Linked DNA regions of Homo sapiens. The protein of the gene in region 1 interacts with the protein of each later gene in a pairwise test. Each region holds a gene or a part of one and is shown in the gene's direction. Other genes may lie near its edges.

Evidence for each region.
Region 2: the proteins of AHCYL1 (region 1) and PRDM6 interact in binary tests that used the Homo sapiens proteins (3 or more experiments, as listed by UniProt).
Region 3: the proteins of AHCYL1 (region 1) and MAGEA2B interact in binary tests that used the Homo sapiens proteins (3 or more experiments, as listed by UniProt).

The regions. Positions count from the first base shown.
Region 1 is NC_000001.11:110,015,750-110,019,400, forward strand, and holds part of AHCYL1 (S-adenosylhomocysteine hydrolase-like protein 1), read left to right. Parts: intron 1-594; coding exon 595-711; intron 712-917; coding exon 918-981; intron 982-1,745; coding exon 1,746-1,834; intron 1,835-2,196; coding exon 2,197-2,267; intron 2,268-2,623; coding exon 2,624-2,718; intron 2,719-2,802; coding exon 2,803-2,901; intron 2,902-3,125; coding exon of another isoform or gene 3,126-3,170; exon of another isoform or gene 3,171-3,301; coding exon 3,302-3,370; intron 3,371-3,651. UniProt on the Homo sapiens protein: Multifaceted cellular regulator which coordinates several essential cellular functions including regulation of epithelial HCO3(-) and fluid secretion, mRNA processing and DNA replication.
Region 2 is NC_000005.10:123,099,204-123,102,854, forward strand, and holds part of PRDM6 (putative histone-lysine N-methyltransferase PRDM6), read left to right. Parts: intron 1-23; exon of another isoform or gene 24-334; intron 335-450; coding exon 451-758; intron 759-3,651. UniProt on the Homo sapiens protein: Putative histone methyltransferase that acts as a transcriptional repressor of smooth muscle gene expression.
Region 3 is NC_000023.11:152,713,122-152,716,872, forward strand, and holds the start of MAGEA2B (melanoma-associated antigen 2), read left to right. Parts: upstream 1-1,506; 5' UTR 1,507-1,561; intron 1,562-1,725; exon of another isoform or gene 1,726-1,807; intron 1,808-1,957; 5' UTR 1,958-2,036; intron 2,037-2,835; 5' UTR 2,836-2,955; intron 2,956-3,526; exon of another isoform or gene 3,527-3,624; intron 3,625-3,751. UniProt on the Homo sapiens protein: Reduces p53/TP53 transactivation function through recruitment of HDAC3 to p53/TP53 transcription sites. Also represses p73/TP73 activity. Proposed to enhance ubiquitin ligase activity of RING-type zinc finger-containing E3 ubiquitin-protein ligases.

The DNA.
Region 1 (3,651 bases):
AGTGATTCTCAACTAGTGTTGAGGGGCGGGTAGGGAATAAATGTATCTTGAAAAACTGTATTCAATATTGTATTATCATTTTATATTTGAAATATGAAAAACAATCCTATTGTAAAACTACATGTTATACACACTACAAAAAGTAAAACTGGGCAAAATATTCTTGGCTTGTTGGAATACTGAAAAGATATCTGAAAGAGTGTTTCTTGGGGGCACATTGCGCATGCTTACTCACACACACACGGAACCATATCAGAATCATTGATAGTCTTTGTTTATCAGAAGTAGGCATGGGTTTCTATTGAAAAATGCTGATCAAAGGAAATAACACTCCCTATAAAGGGAAGAGAAGTACATTTCTTCAATTGAAAGGCTTTTTTTTTTCTTCCAAAAAAGGGGTAAAGGGAGAAGAAAATGAAAAGAAGTGTGGAGGGATGACAAGGAAATAATCATGTTTTCTAATATCCTTGGGCAATAAATGAGACTGGGAAGGGCAGCATGGAACTTGAAGAGAATTAGGCAGATTTTGCCACAAATTATGTTGTGCCAGCTAACTTGGTTTTTGTTTGTTTTTGTGACCTCTTCTCTCTTTAGGCTGTATCAGCTCTCCAAAGCTGGGAAGCTCTGTGTTCCGGCCATGAACGTCAATGATTCTGTTACCAAACAGAAGTTTGATAACTTGTACTGCTGCCGAGAATCCATTTTGGATGGGTAGGTTGAATGTATATATATTCAAACTTCTAGGGGCTCTGGTCTTCCTTTGGCTTTAAAAGTTTATTAGAGGGACCATTTCATACTGAGCTCAACCAGCTTCCAATTGATATTCTCATGGGCATTGGCCCACACTTTTAACTTTGTGAAGAGGGACTGAGTTTGAGCTATTAACGTTTGAGTTGAGCCCTTGTCTGTTTCCACAGCCTGAAGAGGACCACAGATGTGATGTTTGGTGGGAAACAAGTGGTGGTGTGTGGCTATGGTGAGGTAAATAGCTGGGTCTCAGTGTCTCTTTCTTTTTGTGTACTTATTAGAAATATTGGGTAAAGGAGGCTTGTGCTGTCAATCTAGAGTCACTGATACAAGGTTTAAATTTTTTTAGATAATGTATCTCAAACAATAGCAAAAGCCTTTTATTCAGATTTATGAATAGAAACATACAAAATGAATTGAGTTTTCAGATTTTACCATTTTGCCTTGTGGAATAGATACTAGTATCATCTTCCCCAATTATAACAATAACCTTTAATGAGACTTAATTCAAGTGAATATATAGCATTTTAGCCCCACAAGTGACTTGCAGTAGAATTAAGGGTGGAATCTGAAATGGCATATAGTTGAATATCTCCAAACTGGAATAGGTCACATATTTTGTTGTCTTCAGCAATGACCCAAAGAAGTTCCTGAGCTACGAGGGTATCCTTGAGTAGATTCTTCTCAAGTAAGAGAATAGGAAATTAGAGGTTGCTTAGAGTAAGTTGCTTTTGCTTAGTCTTGTTTCCCTGATGAAAACTGCTATGCAAAGCCCCAGTCCTTCCTATGACATGTCTGCTAAATTACCTCTCTAACTGAGGTTCACAACGTAATCTGGGTCTGTTTCTGTTCTGCTTGGGATTGGAGCGTCTGTGCAGCTGCTCACCAGATGACAGGCTATTTCATGAAGGTTAATTCCTGTCTCACAAATAACCTACCTACCCTAAATATCCATGACTTAATGAACCTAACGACTTGACCTTTCTTTTGTTCTGCAGGTAGGCAAGGGCTGCTGTGCTGCTCTCAAAGCTCTTGGAGCAATTGTCTACATTACCGAAATCGACCCCATCTGTGCTCTGCAGGCCTGGTAAGAACAGAGTGATAATACTATTAGATTCACTCTAGGTGCTTTATGTTATTGAGAGTTCATAATTGAGTATATTAATCATTTTTGCAGAAATCACCTAGGGGAAGAGAAGGCTAGGACTGCTCTGTTCTTCTCACTCTAACCCTAGGGCTCTCTGAGAGCCTCTTGGCATTTTTCCTTCCTAGAGGGAGTCTTGGGGACTCTGAAGAGGCCAGTGTATATAGTTTAGCAGAGCTTATCACTCACCATTCCTGTGAGGTGGCACTGGATCCAACTAGAAGGGGATCTTGTCTCATTTCATGACCATCTTCCCTCCCACTGCCTTCTTGCTTTACTCATAGTGTTCCTTTCTTTTCTTCCAGCATGGATGGGTTCAGGGTGGTAAAGCTAAATGAAGTCATCCGGCAAGTCGATGTCGTAATAACTTGCACAGGTAAATAACTTGCATAGAGAAGTGTTTATTCAGAGGCTAAATCTTGAAAGTAGTCTGAGTGACTTTCATACAAAGGAGGTGAGACCTCTGTTCAGTATAAAGGTCTCAGAACTAGAATAAGCTATCAGAACCTTAACATGTTTTCCAGAGTAAAAAACTTTTTTCCCTGGTGACTTTTTATACTGCTTGATCTGAAGACCAGATAGCCTAAGGAGCGGTTATGCATGTCTTCTCTCAGAATGTCTACATGTTCTTTAATGCCAGCAAGCCTCTGGTCTCCTATGTTCTACCTGAAAGCCAGCCAGTACCTTTGTTGCCCGGCATCTCTTTCCTTAACCACCCATCTTTTCTTTTAGGAAATAAGAATGTAGTGACACGGGAGCACTTGGATCGCATGAAAAACAGTTGTATCGTATGCAATATGGGCCACTCCAACACAGAAATCGATGTGGTAAGGCTTCTCTCATTTGTTGCTAGGCATTTCTCTACTACCTTTCATTAATAACCATAGTCAACTGTGCTTTCTTCCTTTCAGACCAGCCTCCGCACTCCGGAGCTGACGTGGGAGCGAGTACGTTCTCAGGTGGACCATGTCATCTGGCCAGATGGCAAACGAGTTGTCCTCCTGGCAGAGGTACACACAGAGAAGGACCCTGGCAGAGCAGCACAAGCAGAGTAGTTAGATCTATGAGGGGGGAGGGGAGGGAAACAAATATTAGGCCTATGTTTCCCTGAATTTTATCTTTGGAGAGAGAGATATTTCACAAATTGGTCCCCAAAATAAAACCACTTTAAAAAAATCTACTTTTTACTAAGTAACACTATTTCCTAACCACAGCTGATTCTTTAACCTTTCAGACTCAGATGGATTTGCAGAAAATAGGAAAAAGCCTAGAGTCCTGATCTGGAACTGTAATTCTTCCTCTTCCAACTGAGTCTAGAGGGGTGTAAAGTCCTCTCCCGCTTTGGCTTGACTTGTATGCCATTGGAATCTGAGACAGAGCTCATCCCAGGGCTCTCTCTTACCTTTCCAGGGTCGTCTACTCAATTTGAGCTGCTCCACAGTTCCCACCTTTGTTCTGTCCATCACAGCCACAACACAGGTATGTGGCAAAATGCCTGCTTACACTGCACTGCAATTTGTGGAACTGGGCGTAGATCAGTTCCAGTGAGGGTGTACTGTACTATGTTCTCATCATCCTATTCTTTTTTGATGTAATAAATTGTGGAAACAGGTATTCTTAAGTATAGAAAAGAGTCACTAAGTCAGTATTCGTTGAATTGGCTGTTTTAGTTGAGAATATAATGTTCCAGCTTAGTTTTATTTGATTTGTTCTTTCGTTAGGAACTAAACAAAAACAACAAATCCTCTTAGGATGTGTGC
Region 2 (3,651 bases), on another chromosome or scaffold:
GGATAAACACATCCTGAAACTCCAGATAGAAACCTCAGGAATGGGCGAGAGGGTCAGAAGGAACGAGAGACAGTAGGGAAGAGAGAGAGAGAGACAGAGACAGAGGGAGAGATGCAGAGAGACTGAAACGGGAGGAAGAAGCCTGGAACTGTCGGTTCCGTGGAGAGCGGACATGCTATCTGCGCCCAGATCCGAAGGCTTTTTGGGGAGCCTAGAGTCCTGGCCCGGTACCAGGCAGATCTGGGTGCGGCGAATTCCAAGGGAGCGGCGCGGGTTCTCTTCTCCTCCTCCTCTGAGTTGCTTCGGTGCCCCCAAGGCATCACCTTCCTCGAAGGTGGCTTACCCAGGCGGGCGGTGATGCTGTTGTCTCGGGAGTTTACTCAAAGATGGGCCGCTCGGGGCGGCCGGATTAACCCGCTCCCTTCCCTTCCTCCTTCTTGTCTCCCGCAGGTTGCGACATGTGCGCGGACAACCGCAACGGCGAGTGCCCTATGCATGGGCCACTGCACTCGCTGCGCCGGCTTGTGGGCACCAGCAGCGCTGCGGCCGCCGCGCCCCCGCCGGAGCTGCCGGAGTGGCTGCGGGACCTGCCTCGCGAGGTGTGCCTCTGCACCAGTACTGTGCCCGGCCTGGCCTACGGCATCTGCGCGGCGCAGAGGATCCAGCAAGGCACCTGGATTGGACCTTTCCAAGGCGTGCTTCTGCCCCCAGAGAAGGTGCAGGCAGGCGCCGTGAGGAACACGCAGCATCTCTGGGAGGTAAGTGGCCGGCTGCACAGCGCCTCCCCACCGAGCAGGAGCCTTGGCCAGCAGGGAGCCTTGGCCGGCAGGGAGCCTGGCCTTTGGCTGTGGCAACTGCGAAGAGAGCCTCCCTTGGCCCCCAGAGGGTAGCGGAGAATAGATTTCTCTGGTCCTGTAGATGCCTGGTGTCTGAAGCACCTGCAGTAAGGAGGCTGACAGAGCTGGGACTGACACAATAGCAACCCAGCCAGGGAAACAGCCTACAGGTGTCTGAAGACAGAGTCACCTTAAGCTGCCTCCATTCCAGCTGGAATGGATTTGACCGTTGGTCTCTGTGAATTTTGAGAAAAAGAGAAAACAGCTGAGGAGATGGAGCAGCGGAGGGTGGGCATTAGAATGTTTGAGCTGGGTGACCTTTATGTCCCATTCCAAGCACTTCCAGTGTGTTTCTGTGTAGTGAGCAGAAAGGAACAGAAGCATAGAGGGGAGGAAGGAGAGGCTGGCCCCTTTTCTCAGATAAAAACAATTTTGTCAAAGTTGAACGTGAGAGATCACATGTTTCACAACTTTCAAAGGGCCCAAAGTAAGCAAATTATATTGGGAATCAAAGGGCCCAAATTAAGCAAATTATATTGGGAATCAGAAATCGCAAATTCTGCTGCTTCTCTGATGAACGGAAATTATGTAATCTTCATCAATATGGAAAATCAAAACATGGGAACAGTGTGAGCACTTTGGTGTAACCCAATTGAGGGTAATACTTTAATGGCACAATCTTACCTGAAGCAATTATTTAAAAATAACCTATTTGAAAAATGTCAGCCTGAGGTTTCTCCCAAAACATCATGGTGGATTATTGAGGTTCACTTCTGAAGAGATAGATGCCTATCATTAGGTCATCCCCCTACCAATCTTAGCCACCTCCATCCATGGAAAGTTGCTTATGTAATACAAGATGACAGAAGTCATACCCTTAAACAATATGTAAATCTGACTAACTGGGCAAGTGGTATAATAAAGTAGGAATAGCTAGAAAATAAAGTTTCTTAAATGCCAGGGGTCAGGTTGACATGAACCCCTGGGCTCCATTAATGCATCGTTTCTGCAAGAGATTGCCTCTCATACTTGGCTTGCTGGCCTGTCAAAATGATCTTTTTCACTGTGAGCTGCCTTATATTCACTAAATAAAGCTCATGGGACTCATTAATCCACTCAAATTTTTGATGAGTGCCCACTCTGGCCAGCACTATATTAGGCCATGGAGATACAGTATGAAAAACAGACCTGGTATCCGGAACCCTCCTGTGACTGTTGGGGATGGGGTCCTGAGGCCTGTGTCTGCAAAGCCTCTTTTGATGGAGGAGGAGCTGAGTGTATGAGTCTACAGCCCAGCAGCCCAAAATGAGGACGTGGAAGCCAATGAACTACCTACCCTATAGTTATCTGCTGGAGTGCCCCGGCTCAAAGCATCTGGTTTGGAAACATTTTGGTTTTTGTTTCTGACTAATTAATTGTAACCTCCAATGTGGTTTAAAGTTTATAAAACACTTTTAGGTACTTCTCATGTTCCAGTAGTGTTATTAGGAACTCTAATATCATATAGTTAAAGGTCTGCCAATATTTTTCTAAGAAAATCGTACAGCAATTGTTCAATAGTACAAATTTACTCTACCTGAAAATGTTAAAACTGAACACTATTATATTGCCCTTTGATGCCTATCTATTTTTAGAGTGCCAGGGGACAAAGACATAAACATGAACAAAAATCTCATAGTTCATTGTGGGTTTTTTCCCCCCCAGAAGGCTTTGAATGATTGGGATGTTGGCAGGAGGCCACTACACATATAGACTATAACAATGCATATTAACACTGAAAACTATGAAACCTTTCTTTTCTACCTTTACTTGTACTTGATGAAGTTAAAATTTTGTTGTAGTAAAGAGACTGGGGAATTTAGTCAGTGTTTTTCTTTTTCTTGATACTTCAGTAGATATAAAGTGAATTTTATCTATTGTTCAGGGCATGTGAGTTGAGTGTGCTGGGATGGTTCTTAGAGTTGGTTCTCTGTTAGAAAAAAGACTTGCTGGGTGTATGCTTGGATGATCTACAGGATCCAACTCCTAAATTCAGGACATAATCTATTTTTTTTAATTATCTGTAACAACAGTTAGAATAAGGTACATTTGGGAATTGAAGGGATTTTAAAACTTTAGCCATACAAAATGTGTCAGTCTCCTGGGAGATCACGTGAAATGCGACTAACTGGGGCCAGGTAACTTAGTGCCAATATCCATTTGTAAAATAAAATACTTACTTTATAAAATAGGTTTCAGATTTTTATTAGCATAATGATTTTTAAGATATAGAATATGAGTTTAAAATTTTTAAGCATTATGATTTATTTTTATGAAACATGACCGTTTGAATTGTTACATTTATAATACAATATTCCAAATGTTAGATTGTTCCTTAAATTTTAGTTCTTTCTTTCAAAGCTAAATTTTCTTCTGAAATTTAAAAAAATCATCATATTATTCACATTAGAATCAGTAAGTAGAATACATTGTAGGTCTATCGGAAATGTTTGGCAATAATTGTTTAATGACTCATGTAATAATTATCCATTTCAAAAACTTATTCTTTTAGATGTCTTCCAGAATAGCAAGTCAACAAAATGTATTAAAAAAATTAAAAGCAGTTGAATCATGATTATTTTATTTTAAAAGGCAACTGTAATCATTTCTCTTCCTCACATTTTTTCAAGTCATTTGCTGATGAAGAAATGTCTTTTTATTTCAAGTTCAATACTCAGGTCCTGATGGATCTTACCAGGGTTACTTATCTTTATTTCAGTACAATAAATGGATTGCTAATCTTTTCCTGTCACTATTTCCAAGTAGATGATGGATT
Region 3 (3,751 bases), on another chromosome or scaffold:
TACCGAAGTATACTGACATATTCAGGAAAAAAGAGCTTGAAATCCATAGAGGAGTATAACATATTCATTCACGGGGAACACAACAGTGTAAAAATGTAAACTCAGCTTAAATTATTTACAATTTAGTGCCTTACCTGTAGCCGCCGACATTACAAGCAAATTTGGGCTGCTGTGCTCTGCTTCCCAAATCAACCCTGTAAATTTATAGAATGGAAACAGAAAGTAAAACACCAGTATCAGCAAGAAAATCTACACAACAAAACAGGGAAAGCCCAGAGTGAGACTGGAGACTGTGTTGAGCTGGTACTTGTGTGTGACACTTGCAGTGTCTGTTGGAGGGGGTTAGCGGCAGAGATGTTGGGGAGGTTTGTAGCCTGCCTAGACGGCAGATGAAAGAATGGGTAGAATAAAAGTTTTGAATTTTCCACTTCACTTCATTGCACAATCTGAGGCAGCCCCTGAAAACACGATGCCAAGAGCCCTAGGTAATAGCAGTGTCCACCAGGAAAATTGGGTTTGTTAAGGCAGCATGGCTCCAGAGTTCTGCTAATAACAACCTGAAACCAACAGAGTGGGAGAGGAATTATGTTTTTTAAAAAAATTCTTTCAACAGAACACAAAGACTGGAATGGAAGTAGACTAGGATATCAGAGTGAATCATGCATACTAAGGGTAGGTGTTAGTTCATAGAAATAAATATATATATTGCTACCTACATATATACTTAGAAGATATGTAAACCGTATTTCTTCAATTCAGAGAATAAATCATTTAGGACCAAAGGTTTGCCAAGTGTAGCTCTGGCTGGGGAGGAGCCCCCGTGGGAAGGTGTGCGTCTTCTCCCAGAGGTCACTATCATCGCGGGAGCTCCTGCCCTGCAGGGAGCACCTGGCCTGGCACCCGCAGCCATTCTCTACAAGGGGTGCAGATGCGCAGATGCGCAGATGCTCAGAGGTGACAGAAACAGAGCATCTCCCACCCATTCCTTCATCAAACAGCCAGGAGTGAGGAAGAGGACCCTCCTGAGTGAGGACTGAGGATCCACCCTCACCCACATAGTGGGACCACAGAATCCAGCTCAGCCCCTCTTGTCAGCCCTGGTACACACTGGCAATGATCTCACCCCGAGCACACCCCTCCCCCCAATGCCACTTCGGGCCGACTCAGAGTCAGAGACTTGGTCTGAGGGGAGCAAACACAATCGGCAGAGGATGGCGGTCCAGGCTCAGTCTGGCATCCAAGTCAGGACCTTGAGGGATGACCAAAGGCCCCTCCCACCCCCAACTCCCCCGACCCCACCAGGATCTACAGCCTCAGGATCCCCGTCCCAATCCCTACCCCTACACCAACACCATCTTCATGCTTACCCCCACCCCCCCATCCAGATCCCCATCCGGGCAGAATCCGGTTCCACCCTTGCCGTGAACCCAGGGAAGTCACGGGCCCGGATGTGACGCCACTGACTTGCGCATTGGAGGTCAGAGGACAGCGAGATTCTCGCCCTGAGCAACGGCCTGACGTCGGCGGAGGGAAGCAGGCGCAGGCTCCGTGAGGAGGCAAGGTAAGACGCCGAGGGAGGACTGAGGCGGGCCTCACCCCAGACAGAGGGCCCCCAATAATCCAGCGCTGCCTCTGCTGCCGGGCCTGGACCACCCTGCAGGGGAAGACTTCTCAGGCTGAGTCGCCACCACCTCACCCCGCCACCCCCCGCCGCTTTAACCGCAGGGAACTCTGGCGTAAGAGCTTTGTGTGACCAGGGCAGGGCTGGTTAGAAGTGCTCAGGGCCCAGACTCAGCCAGGAATCAAGGTCAGGACCCCAAGAGGGGACTGAGGGCAACCCACCCCCTACCCTCACTACCAATCCCATCCCCCAACACCAACCCCACCCCCATCCCTCAAACACCAACCCCACCCCCAAACCCCATTCCCATCTCCTCCCCCACCACCATCCTGGCAGAATCCGGGCTTTGCCCCTGCAATCAACCCACGGAAGCTCCGGGAATGGCGGCCAAGCACGCGGATCCTGACGTTCACATGTACGGCTAAGGGAGGGAAGGGGTTGGGTCTCGTGAGTATGGCCTTTGGGATGCAGAGGAAGGGCCCAGGCCCTCCTGGAAGACAGTGGAGTCCTTAGGGGACCCAGCATGCCAGGACAGGGGGCCCACTGTACCCCTGTCTCAAACTGAGCCACCTTTTCATTCAGCCGCGGGAATCCTAGGGATGCAGACCCACTTCAGCAGGGGGTTGGGGCCCAGCCCTGCGAGGAGTCAAGGGGAGGAAGAAGAGGGAGGACTGAGGGGACCTTGGAGTCCAGATCAGTGGCAACCTTGGGCTGGGGGATCCTGGGCACAGTGGCCGAATGTGCCCCGTGCTCATTGCACCTTCAGGGTGACAGAGAGTTGAGGGCTGTGGTCTGAGGGCTGGGACTTCAGGTCAGCAGAGGGAGGAATCCCAGGATCTGCCGGACCCAAGGTGTGCCCCCTTCATGAGGACTGGGGATACCCCCGGCCCAGAAAGAAGGGATGCCACAGAGTCTGGCCGTCCCTTGTTCTTAGCTCTGGGGGAACCTGATCAGGGATGGCCCTAAGTGACAATCTCATTTGTACCACAGGCAGGAGGTTGGGGAACCCTCAGGGAGATAAGGTGTTGGTGTAAAGAGGAGCTGTCTGCTCATTTCAGGGGGTTGGGGGTTGAGAAAGGGCAGTCCCTGGCAGGAGTAAAGATGAGTAACCCACAGGAGGCCATCATAACGTTCACCCTAGAACCAAAGGGGTCAGCCCTGGACAACGCACGTGGGGGTAACAGGATGTGGCCCCTCCTCACTTCTGTTTCCAGATCTCAGGGAGTTGATGACCTTGTTTTCAGAAGGTGACTCAGGTCAACACAGGGGCCCCCATCTGGTCGACAGATGCAGTGGTTCTAGGATCTGCCAAGCATCCAGGTGGAGAGCCTGAGGTAGGATTGAGGGTACTCCTGGGCCAGAATGCAGACAGGGGGCCCCATAGAAATCTGCCCTGCCCCTGCGGTTACTTCAGAGACCCTGGGCAGGGCTGTCAGCTGAAGTCCCTCCATTATCCTGGGATCTTTGATGTCAGGGAAGGGGAGGCCTTGGTCTGAAGGGGCTGGAGTCAGGTCAGTAGAGGGAGGGTCTCAGGCCCTGCCAGGAGTGGACGTGAGGACCAAGCGGACTCGTCACCCAGGACACCTGGACTCCAATGAATTTGGACATCTCTCGTTGTCCTTCGCGGGAGGACCTGGTCACGTATGGCCAGATGTGGGTCCCCTCATCTCCTTCTGTACCATATCAGGGATGTGAGTTCTTGACATGAGAGATTCTCAAGCCAGCAAAAGGGTGGGATTAGGCCCTACAAGGAGAAAGGTGAGGGCCCTGAGTGAGCACAGAGGGGACCCTCCACCCAAGTAGAGTGGGGACCTCACGGAGTCTGGCCAACCCTGCTGAGACTTCTGGGAATCCGTGGCTGTGCTTGCAGTCTGCACACTGAAGGCCCGTGCATTCCTCTCCCAGGAATCAGGAGCTCCAGGAACCAGGCAGTGAGGCCTTGGTCTGAGTCAGTGTCCTCAGGTCACAGAGCAGAGGGGACGCAGACAGTGCCAACACTGAAGGTTTGCCTGGAATGCACACCAAGGGCCCCACCCGCCCAGAACAAATGGGACTCCAGAGGGCCTGGCCTCACCCTCCCTATTCTCAGTCCTGCAGCCTGAGCATGTGCTGGCCGGCTGTACCCTGAGG